Homo sapiens: one gene and its partner. The protein of the gene in region 1 interacts with the protein of each later gene in a pairwise test. Each region holds a gene or a part of one and is shown on either strand. Other genes may lie near its edges.

The links. The genes of interacting proteins can lie anywhere in the genome.
Region 2: the proteins of SYTL1 (region 1) and RAB27B interact in a two-hybrid assay, tested with the Homo sapiens proteins (one study listed by BioGRID).

Annotation. Positions count from the first base shown.
Region 1 is NC_000001.11:27,345,001-27,352,027, reverse strand, and holds part of SYTL1 (synaptotagmin-like protein 1), read right to left. Parts: intron 6,732-7,027; coding exon of another isoform or gene 6,694-6,731; coding exon 6,503-6,693; intron 4,608-6,502; coding exon 4,459-4,607; intron 4,224-4,458; exon of another isoform or gene 4,221-4,223; coding exon 4,148-4,220; intron 4,062-4,147; coding exon 4,016-4,061; intron 2,949-4,015; coding exon 2,876-2,948; intron 2,631-2,875; coding exon 2,530-2,630; intron 2,377-2,529; coding exon 2,263-2,376; intron 2,057-2,262; coding exon 1,896-2,056; intron 1,640-1,895; coding exon 1,543-1,639; intron 1,235-1,542; coding exon 1,076-1,234; intron 771-1,075; coding exon 692-770; intron 573-691; coding exon 473-572; intron 1-472.
Region 2 is NC_000018.10:54,887,456-54,894,482, forward strand, and holds part of RAB27B (ras-related protein Rab-27B), read left to right. Parts: intron 1-539; coding exon 540-663; intron 664-1,768; coding exon 1,769-1,958; 3' UTR 1,959-5,536; coding exon of another isoform or gene 5,537-5,618; 3' UTR 5,619-7,027. UniProt on the Homo sapiens protein: Small GTPase which cycles between active GTP-bound and inactive GDP-bound states. In its active state, binds to a variety of effector proteins to regulate homeostasis of late endocytic pathway, including endosomal positioning, maturation and secretion.

The DNA.
Region 1 (7,027 bases):
CCCTCTGCAAAATACAGTGTTGCTCAGAAGTACAGTACCTCTGTACTGCAGCCTCTGGCTGCATCAGAGTGGACACCCAGAAGTGACCCGCCCACCTCCATTTCACTCTCTAACAGTGGGGGCAGCACCTGGAGGCACCCCTAGAAGTCCCCTAGAAGCTTACACTGAACTATAAGTTCCCAGCCAAGCCCCACAGCCTGGCCTCCCAGGTTCTCTATGGAAGGACCCTTGCAGCCCTCAGCCTCAGCTTTTCAACAAGTCCTATAGGCGCCAGTCACGCTGAAATGCAGCTCCTCAAAGGTGTCCTCAACTTCCCTGACTCCAGGCCTTTGCTCAAACCGTCCCCTTCACCCCTGCTCAGTGGTGAAAGCCCAGGCTGCGTGATCAAAGGTTGATTAGTAAGGGTTTGTGGAGGTTGGGCACTCCACTGCAGGCAAAAGAATGGGAAGCCCGGAGGGCCAGCACTCCTCACCATTGTACGTAAGTGTCCAGGGATCCTGCCCGCAGCGGCAGGAGGTCCCGAGCCTCCTTCACCCAGAAGTGCAGCTCCCCGCTCGGGGGCAGTCCTGCGCCTGCGGAGAGGCTCGGCTCAGGCCCGCACACGGATGGAGTCCACCGCCCCCAAACCCGGGGACTGGAGTCTCCCGCTTTTCAGGGCGTGTCCAGCTTGGCCTCTCCGGCTGTCACTCACCCTCGGAGCCGGCGGGGACGTACTTGAGGGACAGGGCGAGTAACCCGCGGCTCGGAAGGTCGTCGGGAGAGGGTGGGACCTGCGAGAGGCGGGCTTATCGTGGAGCAGGGGCTAATGGAAAGGGGCCTCAGGAGGGTGGGGTCTGCAGACCCGGATGGGGTGCGGCTAGAAGAGACGGCGGGGCCTGCAGGGGCAGAACCTAGGGGTCCTAGCGCCCTCGGGGAAGGGGCCGTGGCCGGCCGGGCTTCGCCTGGGGCCATGAGGTTAAGAGGTTGAGGGGAGGTTCTGTCGAAGGCGGGGTGTGAGGGGGCTGCGGGAGAGCCTGGTGGGGTAAATGCAGGAGACCCGGGCCGCAGGTCTCCCCACGCGGCCTGGCTGCCTCACCCGGGGCTGCAGGGGGAGCCAGGTGGGCTCAGAGCCCCAGTCCCACGTGTCCAGGGGCACTTCAACTTCGCCCAGAAAGATGTTGCGACCCAGGCTTTCGCGGTGCCACACAGACAGGCTCAGCACGCGGCCCTGAAGCTCGGCCTGCGGGACGGAGTACTGAGGACAGGAGGTGAGCTTTAGTGGAGCACTGCTGGTGGCCCGCGTAGATGCTGCGCGAGTTGGCTGAGGCAGGTCCTACCGCGTTCCTACCATGATGGAATTCTGGGGAGCCCCTAAGGGCATTAATGGGGACCTGCACTATCACCACGCCCACCACGAGGCTGACAACACTGGATAACGAGTTAATGGGCCCCCTCCGCCGATCCTCCGGGCAATGACGTTACTGGCTGCCCTTGCCACCTAGCCCCGCAGGAAGGGGGCGTCCAGTTCATTAACGGGGAACCGCATCGTGGTCACAGCCTCACCCGGAGAGTCTCGTTGAAAACCGGATTCAGATTCCGTTTCTTCACCGCCGTCTTGCGCTTGCTCTGCTTATCCGGGAGGAGGTAGCTTTTGACGTAGCTGGGGAGGTGAGAACCCGAGGTGAGGAGGGGCCCTCCCAGAGCCTTCTCCCCTGCCTGTGGGCTCCCCCAGCCACCATCCCGAACACGTGCCAGGCCTCGTGCTAAGCGCTTTACAGGGATTGTCTCGCTTAATCGCACGCCTCCCAATAACGCTGTTGTTCCCATTTTGAAGATGAGGACGAGGAGGCCGAGACCCTGTGAATGGTGGGCTGGGCTGTGACAGCCGCGCCCCGCTTGGCCGGCGGGGCACTCACGGGTCCGAGCGGCGGCGCCGGGCGGCGGCCAGGCCCTGGCACTGGATCACGTGCACGCGCAGCTCGGCGGCGCCCGGCTCGTAGTGCAGCGCGAAGTGCACGGAGCCGCGGACCTGCACCGCCTCCGCGTCGCCTGACAGGCTCATCTGGCTGCCGCTCAGCTGCGGACGGGAGTGGGTGGGAGTCAGGGCCGCTCGCAGGGCTCACGTCGGGGCCGCGGGCAGCGCGGAGGCTTCAGACCCGGGTCATAGGTGGCAGGCTGGGGGGCTGCAGCGGTGGGTCCCGCGGCGAGGGAGGGGCAGGCAGGGGCTACGCATCGGAACGGGTCCACCCCCCGGCCGCCCGGGTCCCCTCCCTCCCGCCTCACCGTGGAGGAGTTAAGGCTGGACACCGAGGAGCTGCTGCTGAGCATGCGGTCGAGAGAGGGGTCGGGCCCCGGGGCCTCCTCCCCATTCTCCAGGATCTGGGACGCGGCCTTGGTCTGCAGAGGGGGCAAGTGACGGGGCGCCCCTTCTTTCCCCACCCCTGCCCCGAGCGCCCTGGGTCGCGGGCGGCTCGCAGCCCTGGGCAGGAGCGCTCCCCGCCCGGAGTCCGCTCCGGATGTTGAGAGCAGCCACGGGCCACTCCCGCCTACCTGGGCTTGCTGGGGCCGCGGCTCCTGCTCTCCCCCCGACGCGGGCTCCAGCTCCGGGTCAGCCTCCTCGGCACAGACCTGTTGGTCTCCTTGGCCAGGATCTGGGGTGGGGCACGAGATGCTAAGCGAGCCCTCTCCTGCCCTCCCCTAAGCAAATTTGTAGGAACTGGTTTACAACCCCAGCGAGCTGCAGATTCAGGCCCCGGTGCTGCCCTGGGATCGTCCCCACCTCCGACGCGGGGTGGGAGTGGGGGTGACGAGGGTGAACACAGGTGGTTGGGGCCCCTTAGAGCTGCCTCTGACCCGCGAAACCTCTCCGTGCTCCCCAACAGGCGCTCCCACTCACCTTCCTGGGCCTGGGACGCCTCCTCAGGATCTGAAGCCTTTAGGGGGACAGAAGGCGATGGGAAATCAGGTCCCTGAAGGAAGAAAGGGGTAGAGGTCACAGTACGGGGGCTGGTGAGGAAGAGGTCAAAGGTCATATTGGGGTCAGAGGTCATAGGGCTCCAGCCAGCTACCCCAGTTTCAGGTTTAGGGCAGCCCTCCGGGCAGGGCTGGCAGCCAGCTGCAGGAGCGGTGAGACCAGTGCTTCACAGCCCACCCCGCAGGGCTTGTGCCGCCTGACTCCCTACTCCCATTGGTGGGGTCATTCGTACCTGAGTCCTCCACCTCTGCCAGGCCAGGCCAGTCCCATTCCTTTCTCACTCCTTTTTTTATTTTTATTTTTTATATTGACCCATTGGTAGACAACCTTTTTTCTTTTTTTAAATTTATTCTTATTATTTTTAATTGAGACAGAGTTTCACTCTTGTTGCCCAGGCTAGAGTGCAATGGTGTGATCTTGGCTCACTGCAACCTCCGCCTCCTGGGTTCAAGCGATTCTCCTGCCTCAGCCTCCCAGTAGCTGAGATTCCAGGTTATGCACCATCATGCCCAGCTAATTTTGTATTTTTAGTAGAGATGGGGTTTCTCCATGTTAGTCAGGCTGGTCTTGAGCTCCTGACCTCAGGTGATCTCGGCTTCCCAAAGTGCTGGGATTATAGGCGTGAGCTGCCACGACCGGCCTTTTTTTTTTATTTATTTTTTATAGACATGGGGGGCATTTTGCTATGTTGCCCAGGCTGGTCTTGAACTCCTCGGCTCAAGCGATCCTCCCACATCAGCCTCCCAAAATGCTGGGATTACAGGCATGAGCCACCGTGCCTGGCCCCACTTCACCCCTTAATAGCCAGATTCAGAAGTTCCCTTAGAGGCTGGGTCCATATACCACTCACTGTTCACCACCGTTCACCACTGTTTACCACCATTCACCACCGTTCCCCACCGTTCACCACTGTTCCACCCAGGAGGTGATGAGGTGCAGACACAGGAAGGAACATTTCCAGGGTCTCCCCATTCCCAGGCTGGGGCTCTTTCCCCCCTGCCCCCTGCACATTCCACCTCCCCTCCAGGGACACTGTACTCACATGTTGGCTCATTCACTTACCTCAGTCTCCCTGAGCCTCTCCTGAGGGGCCTCATCAATGGTGAGCCTAGGAGTAGGGAGAGGACGCTCTCAGAGGGAGGGACCCTGGTGACTGGTGGGCACCATCTCCCCCTTCCTGAGACTCCTCCTCACCTGGGCTCTGGCCCCTCTTCCTTCTCTTTCACAGCAGCCTCAGCCTCCCTGTCGTGGCCTGGAGCCTGGTCTCCTGGGCGCAGGTGAGAAGTTCTGTGAGCCCCCATGCTCAGGAAGCCTGGCTGTGACTCGGGAGAGGCCCTGGGAGATACCCACCCACCCCATGCCCACGGAGGGGCATTGCCCACTGAAAGACACACAGTACTGGGGGCAGCCAGGACTGGAGCCCTAGTGGTCCTCTCTCCCTGTCCACATACAGCCAGCGCCCTGGACGGCACATGGCTTGCCCTGCCCCGAGGATCTCCTCTCACCCCTGGTGCTCTTCTTCCTGCGCATAGACGCTCGGACAAGGTCAGAGCCGAAGTGGGCATTGTGGTGCCGCTGGGAGCGTGCTTCCTGGAACCAGTCCCCTGTCAGGATCTTCAGCTGCCCAGGGTCTGCCACTGAGGCCCGGAGCTTGCTGGAGGAAGGGGGAGGGTGTGGCTGTCATGACTCACCCAAGCAACATTCCCGCCACCTACATTGTTAACAGGCTTGGGACCAGGGGCCAGGGACCCAACAGCAAATCAGACTTGATCTGTGCTGTGGAGGAGCTCGGGCTGCTGGGGAGACCAAGTCCAGAAGAGACAAGTACACTGTAGTGAGGTGGATGATGTGATAGAAGTAAGAAGAGCCAGCTCTGCCTGTGAGAATCCAGGAGGGCTTCCCAGAGGAGGTGACATTTGAATTGCCTTTATTTATTTATTTACTTAATTATTTTGAGATGGAGTCTCCCTCTATGCCCAGGCTGGAGTGCTGTGGCGCAATCTCAGCTCACTGCAACCTTCACCTTCCAGGCTCAAGTGATCCTCCCACCTCAGCCTCCTGAGTAGCTGGGACTACAGGCGTGTGCCACCATGCCCAGCTAATTTTTTATATATTTTTTTGTAGAGACGGGGCTTTTCCATGTTGCCCAGGCTGGTCTCTAACTCCTGGACTCAAGCAATCCACCTGCCTCAGCCTCCCACAATGTTGTAAGTCACTGTGCCCAGCCTTGAATTTCTTCTTAAAAGACAAATTGGAACTCTCCAGGTAGAGAAGGATAATAATTATTATACTTTTAATTTTATTATTTTTTTTTGAGACAGGGTCTTGCTCTGTTGCCCGGGCTGGAGTGCAGTGGCATGATCATGGCTCATTGCAGCCTGACCTCCTGGGTTCAAGCAATCCTCTCACCTCAGCTGCCTAAATAGCTGGGACTACAGGCGCACACCACCACGCCAGGCTAATTTTTTATATTTTGTAGGAATGGGGTCTCACTGTGTTGTCCAGGCTGGTCTTGAATTCCTGGGCTCAAGCAATCCTCCCGTCTCAGCCTCTCAAAGTGCTAGGATTACAGGCGTTGCCACTATCTCTGGCCAATTCCTCTTAAATCAGTGAAGTAGGACTCCTTAGCCCCATTTTACAGACGACGAGCATGGTGCTCAAGGAGGTCAGGTGAGTTGCCAAGGCTACGTAGCTAGGAAGTGTCTGTCCCCAAACATTGCTTGTAACGCCCATGCTCTTCTACAACTGTGCTCTTCCAGGAAGAAGTACCAGCATAGGCATAGAAGTGAAGAGTGGGTTCAGGGACTGGGGAGCACCTGAGTGGCTGGAGGGGTCACTTTGTGTCTGTGTGTCGGGTCGGAGTTATGGTGAAAGAGGAGATGGTGGGGGCTGGCAAGGACCGACCAGGGAGGCCCAGTGGACCATGCCTAGGAGCTTGCCCTTGATACTGGGGAGCCAGGGGAAGTTTTCAGCGGGGATATTAAGGACGGATCTGGCCAGGCACGGTGGCTCGCGTCTGTAATCCCAGCACTTTGGGAGGCTGAGGCGGGTGGATCATCTGAGATCAGAGGTTCAAGACCAGCTTGGCCAACATGGCGAAAACCCATCTCTACTAAAAATACAAAAATTAGCTGGGCATGGTGGCATGTGCCTATAATCCCAGCTATTTGGGAGGCTGTGGCAGGAGAATCGCTTGAACCCGGAGGGGTGGAGGTTGCAGTGAGCCAAGATTGTGCCACTTCACTCCAGCCTGGGCGAAAAAATGAAACTCTGTCTCAAGAAAAAAAAAAAAAAGCAGACAGATCTGGGGAGCACCAGCTGCAGGAGGTGGGCCCAAGAGGCAAGCCTGGAGGCAGGGAGGCTGGCGAGAAAGCTGGTGCAGTCACCCCTGGAGAAGTGATGAGCTGTGAGCTGGCCAAGGCCAGAGGAGACTGAAGGGCAAAACCAAGAACCACGCAGACATCTGACAGGCAGTGGTGTCGGTAGGGAGCAGGATGGGGGCCACTCAAGCCTCTTGGTGCTCCCCGGCCAGGGTCTGCCCTGCCTTACCTGACCCGCCCCTCCTCCAGCTGGCGCAGGCGGGCATCTCGTTGGAGGACGCCAGCAATGGCCTCCTGCTCCTCCTCTGTCAGGAAGCTGAGGTCCAACAGTCCTTCAGTCTCAGGCTTTGGCCCATGCGCCATGGGGAGGGAGGGCAGAGCCCAAAGCCCCTCTTGCGATGGGTGGCCCCTCTGGGGCATCAGCTGGGGCTGTGCCCCAGCTGGGCACACGGAGCTTCCTGGGGGCAGACCGAGGGTCAGGTCAAGCCCTGCACAAATGCTTGGCACATCCTAGAACCAACAGCCCTTTTCTCCCCAAACACTTGGCCGGGTATGGGTAGGGTGCCACCCCAGGATGGCTGAGCTCAAGGTGGGGTGAGAGACACTCATGCACACATGCATACACTAGCCCTTGAACACACTTGGAGACACAGTGGAAGAAGCAAGAGACACACATGCACACACCCTGAGGTAGGGCCACACAGGACTGCAGCGATGGAACACACAGACACATGTGCACACGCGGGTCCATGTA
Region 2 (7,027 bases), on another chromosome or scaffold:
TTATTATGTATGTGTATTATGTATTATTAGAAGAAATCCCCTTAACCAAGAATAGCACATGGATTGAAAAGATCTTCCAGAGGAATATATGTGATGTTTTAATGAATTACTTAATAATAAAAGCACCTAACATTTACTAAATGTTTGGTGTTGACAGAGGTGCTTCATATATATTATTAGAAGAAATCTCCTTAAGCAAGAACAGCGCATGGATTAAAAAGATCTTCCAAAGGAATACATATGATGTATTAATGAATTACTTAATAATAAAAGCACCTAACATTTACTAAATGTTGGGTATTGATACAGGTGTTTCATATATATTATTAGTCCCCTTCATAATCTGAAATTTGTAAGGTGTTATCTCCGTTTTACAGATAAGCACATTGTGACTGGGAAGAGGAAGTAACTTGGCCAATATAACTAGTAAGCAACCAAACTGGAGATAAGCAATTAGATCAGGAATCTGGAATAAGAGCAGTCATTTGACATCACTTATTTATCAATAACTTGCTGGTTCCATCTGCTTTCTTTTCAAGGCCAACTGCAAGCAAATGCTTATTGTGAAAATCCAGATATAGTATTAATTGGCAACAAGGCAGACCTACCAGATCAGAGGGAAGTCAATGAACGGCAAGCTCGGGAACTGGCTGACAAATATGGGTAAGTCAGTTACACTGAGATGGCATGTGACTTGCACACTGCTGTTCAGCAAATGGAGCAGAGACATTAGATTGATATTAGAAGAAATCCCCTTAACCAAGAACAGCATGTGGATTAAAAAGATCTTTCAGAGAGATATATATGATGTATTAATGAATTACTTAATAATAAGAGCACCTAACATTTACTGTATACCTATAATGTGCTAGCAACAGTTCCTAGACATTAACTCATTTTAACCCATCATAACTAGAGTTATCTCATTTTATATATAAGAATTGAGTCACAGAGAGATTAAGTAACTGATGGAAGGCCACCCCACACAGTTAGTGACAGGCAGAGCTTAAACTCAATCCAGACAGTCTGATATCAAAGCTCATGCTCTTAAACACTGTATTCTTCTGCCTCTCAATCAATAGATGTAAAACTCCAAGAAATAATCCCTGACAAGGGTATGAAAATGTGGTCTTTATCCCAGCTGAGCTTGAATGGCAGCTTAAAAAAAAAAACAGAAACAACACCCCATGTAATTGTAAATTGACTTCCGTGGCAGAATCTGTCATTATTCTTTAAATTTAAAGTAGTTTTATCATATCTGCCAATTTTTTATGGAAGAATTCTCCCTAAAAGCTGTACAATTTACACGTCTTTCTTGAAACTTTTAAATCCAAATAAACATTGACTGTATTCACACAAATATCCTTATTCAATGCATACCTATTTTTTAAAGGAGATTTCCAGATAATTGAGTGGAAGGGAAGCAATATTTTAATAGTAACATTGGTCAGTAGTTTTATTGATCAGAGGGTATTTTTCCCCTCCTAATTTTTTTAAACAGTGATAATGCCTTGGCTTCAACTTCCTGACTACCTCTTGTGTCAATTTCCTTGCCCATAAAACTGGTTGTAATCATACTAAAGAGCAGCTCACCAATTTTTACTCACTGAGGAAAAAACAAGGATGCTTTCCAACTTAGCCAGCAAAACCATAATCATTTCACAATCTCTCAGCCAGCCGTTTTTGCATGTGTGATTCACTTGTACATCTTGCTGTATCTGTTCTGATTTCTTCCTCTCAAAAATATTTGCCATCCTTTCTATGCTAGCATACCATATTTTGAAACAAGTGCAGCAACTGGACAGAATGTGGAGAAAGCTGTAGAAACCCTTTTGGACTTAATCATGAAGCGAATGGAACAGTGTGTGGAGAAGACACAAATCCCTGATACTGTCAATGGTGGAAATTCTGGAAACTTGGATGGGGAAAAGCCACCAGAGAAGAAATGTATCTGCTAGACTCTACATAGAAACTGAACATCAAGAACCCCACCAAAATATTACTTTTAAAAACAATGACAAACCACACAATTGTTGTTGAGTAAACCACGCACAATGGCATGTCTTTCTTTTTCTGCCAGAAAATCTATTTTAAGAAACCAGAATAGTCAACAGTGTTCAAAAGAATTGACTAGTTATCCCTGAGGCCCTTTCAAACATGATCAAAGATTTCCCAATGTGATCTCATCATCATGGATACTCAATTTGTTTTTTCTTATAGAGAAAATGAGTATATAAGACAATATACAAGAAGAAATATCAGTGAGTTTTAAATCAGAACAAGTTACCTGTCACATTGAAGAAAAGGGTAGGCACTAAAGGGAGAACACAGAAAGAAGAATTTCTAAAATATTGGATTTACTTCTTATATTGAGTCAGATGCATACTTTTAGATTTGCATTGGGGAAAATGTACTAGCTAAAAATGGATACACAATGAAGAATTCTATTTGGCTAATTAAGAATGATATACTATGTACACCCAATAAGCTGTACTAGAATGAATAAATTACTGATAAGGTTACAAATAGGTAAATGTCACACTTCTGTTAAAATGCAGGAGGTAGTGTCATAATGCCGTCTTTATATTCTTAATAAATAGCACTTTGACAAGAACAGGACTGTAAATGATGAAGTACAAGACAAATACCCTGGGAAAAAAAATGAAAGTATGAGAAATTGGCATTTCTACAGCTGAAATTCAATGTATCTGTTAGAGATGTCTGGAAGGGTTACTTAGCCAAATTTTACTCAAGCCAATTAGGAGCTGATATTATCAGTTGGAATTAAGAGAACTCCAGAGGTTTCCATTTCAAACAAAATTTTAGAAATTGGTTTGGTGTTCAGCTTCACATTTCATTTTTTCTTAGCACATGTTGATAAAATAGTCACAAGGAGAAATTACCAGTTACGGTTTATTAAATCTCTTTTAAAATGCAGTCAAGGAAAACTAGCCTTGAATTTTTTTTAGATAAAATAAGATGGTGATATGAAACAAAAAGTGGCAATTATTGCAGGTTTCCTTTTAGTTTACAAAAGTACTGGAAACTAAATCATATTTCTTCCCTCCAAATTTCACCCATTCCTGACTTTGAATCAATTGCAGAAATGCAGGTGTGTTACTTTGTTGATCAATAACTTTGGAACAATTATGGATCAATTCTATGGTCACTCTGAATTTTCATGTCATTAATCACATAAAAATTGATAATACCTCATTCTGTATTACAATATGATTTTATTTTGCCAAAGGCAAGACACCTATAGTTGAGCTGTATTTTGGGGGATTGGGTGAGGAAGGACTTCTGATCTTATCTCAACAAAAAACTGGCCAGTATTTTTGTTAATGTAAAGCTTCCTTTTCTTTCTAAAAAATAGTAACAAAATTATTTTTCATTGGCCTATTCTGTTCTTGTGTCTAAACTAACATTACATTAATTTTTAATCTTAGTTTCTGATAAACACAAGCCATTCCTATCAAAATATTATTTATTTCAGTCAATTTTACCAAATAACAAAGACAATATATTTTCGTTTTTTTTTATTATGAGCATATGATTTTTTGACAGGCTGTTTCCTCGTCGTATAGATTTTTTCCAATCAAACCTACTTTTTCCATACTCTGTGCATATTTTTTGTGAAGTTATACACATTGAAGACCCTAAAAATCCCAGTCCATCATTCAGCTTACCTCTGCGAACTTCTATCTGGTATTGAATCAGTTTCAGAAACACAGACAGATCCAAGGAAATGTCTCTTTATAATGTTCTTAGGATGGACTAGACCCATAAATGTGCCATGAATCAAAATATTAATAATTTGAAAGCTTTCATGCTGTTAGCCCCTGATGAAATTCTCAGCATTAACTGGCCAGCTCCTCTGATTTCTGCAGCATCGCAACAGGTTCGAAGATGGGTTGTGGCTGGGTATTCCCTCCCATGGTGTTTCCTCTGGGATGCTCTTCATTATCTCAATGCCTGTGCCATGAAGATAGAAAACTGTAAGCTAACATTTAAGATGTTTCTTCTGGAAGGAAAGTGAGCAGGAACAAGTTATATTGCCACTGCTGTGGCAAATTTTGGTGAACTTTTGGGGTCATTATATCAATTTTTTCTTTGGATTCAAATTGTAATGTCCCCTGCATTTCCTTAATAGGGAATGTGAAACCTTTATAAAACTCTAAAAGTATTCTGTTTTGATATGTCTTTTTGTTTCTATTCATTTTCAGTTATATGATTGATTTACTTATGCCAAGATTCTGTCACTGTCAGTTATTTAATGAGTGTTTTTTCAGGGTCTGTTTTAAGATCATTATTTGATAGCTGTAGCATGAAGCAGAGGTTGATGATGCCCATAATTGCAAGACTATTCCTGTAAAAATAACAATTATTGGGTAATAACTTCAAGAGGAATGAGAAGTGACAAAATTGATTTAAAATATTGTTCTACTTATAAATAAATGCTTGATATAAAAAATTTTCTCCATAAAGTTTGACATCTGACCCCAGATTCTATGTAATCATTATTAGAAATTCCTTCTCTCATTATTTCAGGATTAGTAGTTCTGTGTAATTCATTTTACAATTTCAAATTGTTCTGGTGCCATAAAGTATACAGACTACTTTAAAGATTTCCAAATCCCCTAATTTACCCCACAACAGCATGTAATTTTAGCCAAGATATGTCCTGTTACTAAGTATCTCCCAATGCTTTAGTAAAACGTATTTAGGAGAAATGTTGAAAATGTACATGAAGCTCCTTTCTGATATAGAAACCATTTCTGGAGTATTTACACTGGTTTGATGTTTACATTGCTCTAACTCGGTGCCTCAGATACCTCTGTGACCAAATTTGTCTCCAACCACATAGCTCATTTCCTATAATGTTATATCATAGGAAGCCCTCACAGAGACACTAACACAGCTAAAGATCTTCTGATATTATCAGCAAGGGATGCAAGGACTTTATTGGAATCTGGAGAGTTTAACTGCCTTCTCTTGGTCTCCTCACTTACTTCTTATGAAGTTGGCATTACCTGAGACTCTTAGCTGTGATTAGGTACAAGCTTACCTTTTAGGGTAGAAAAAGAAAGATCATTTGAAAAATGTATCTAAAATAATCCAGAGAACATAATGTTTGTCTTGGTCTGATAATGATAAGAAGTCAAGGATTGGCAGAGAAAATACTAAACGCCAAGAGTTGAGCCTGTGGGTCTCTCCATAAGAGTTTTAAAACTCTTGCCAGTTACCACTTTATCCAATTTGCTATCATTTTCGTATTATCAGCTATCGCCCTGTAAAATATTCAAAACTAGCTATTTCTAAAGTAAACATTTTATCTGTTACTTTTAACCAGATAGGTGTCTTTGTCATCCTTCTACTATAAATTGTTCTTTGCCAACCTGTACAGGTAGATGAACCAGGCGAGAGTTTTAATCAGCCTTTTCTTGTCCCCTTTGTAAGAAAGAGATGCTTGCCATAGAGAAGGACATGAGTACATTAAAAATAATTTAATAGCCACAATATGATGTTCTTTAAGCTGCAAATTGAGTACACTGGGAATCAACAAATTTGATGAAGCCTGTCTGTCTCTTCACCAGTGGAGTGAGTGCAGCAGTTAGAAAGAGAAGCAATATTGTGCAACTGGTGCAGTGGTGAGTTAATCATAGTGTATAACCTTGTGTTCATGAAACAGGTTGTTCATTGTTCTGCATCTCTCTTCATTTAAAAAGGATACACAATTCTTTCCTCATTGCATATTACACCAAACGTTTGAGGGAAAAATCCTCATTCGTAAAGGATTTTGGATGTATAATCTAAAACTCAACAATAAAGAAATAATATTCCAAGTCTCTGGTTTCCTAAGATACATAATAACTGTTTATAAAGAAGGTCTAAGAGCTGATATTTGCCAAAGTGATAGAAGAGTTGTTTTTTCCTCTCTACTACCAAGCTTTAAGACATTAAAAGAAGTCTAGTGTATTTGAATATTTTAGAGAAAGCTTTATCATTTTTTAAGATGCCAAGATGCTGCCTACGTTTGCAAAAGTTGTCTAAGAATTCACCATGAGCTATATTTTCTTCTGGATCTTTGACCAAGGTGATGTCAGCTTATTTCTGGGGAAGGTGTTGAGCTCTTATACATGAAAATGGATATAGGCTATTCTCTGGGATGAGTGTCATTTCAATGCTTTATAAATCCATGAAGCTGCTTGTCTCATAAAGTAGAACTGATACAAATTTTGGTTGGATATATAGAGAATTTTATAAATGTATTGCCTTAGAATTTCTGGGTGGAGACCCAACTACAATGACATTGTCATGCCAGAACTATAAAGATAATTAGAGTTAAAAGTTGTTTAAATTGTGCCCTTAAATACAGCAGAACCTGGAGAAGGTCATACTTCAAAGGTCGATTTTGAGTCCGAATAAAGAAAGACCTAGTAACAGATAGTTTTTTTTTGTTCATTTTCTTCTACCAAGTAGAGGTTTATGCCCTCAGAACTAAACTAGTAAAAATATCTGAACAAAAAACCTTTCGTTGTTGGCATAAAAATGTGATACACTTAGAGACATTTTGTTTATTGCATATAAATCTAATTTTTCCATAAATTAGATTTATGATATTTTCATAAAGCACTTGATTAGTTTTTCAAGGCGTACCATCACAAAGATGCTTTCCTGCAGAGTTCTTTGTATCAACAGCCTATGGTTGAGATGTTTTCTCATTTCCTGTAGAGAGAGAATACCACTAACAAACAAACAAAAACTTTAGTGCCAAAATAGTGGAACTATTTTGTCATCTTTTGAGAAAAAAATATACAAAGAAGTCATCTTTTCATTAAGTGGATTCCCTGGTTCCTTTCCAGCTGGTTGTGGAAGTAATGGCTAACATCCTTCAGCTGACTTTGTCTACAAGGATTATTAGCAAATTCTGTAGGAGCAAGCATGTCTGACCTTAACTTAATGGATCCCTTATTCAATCAGTGGCTTCTGTCTTTATGTCTGTTGGCATATCAAAATGGTTTCT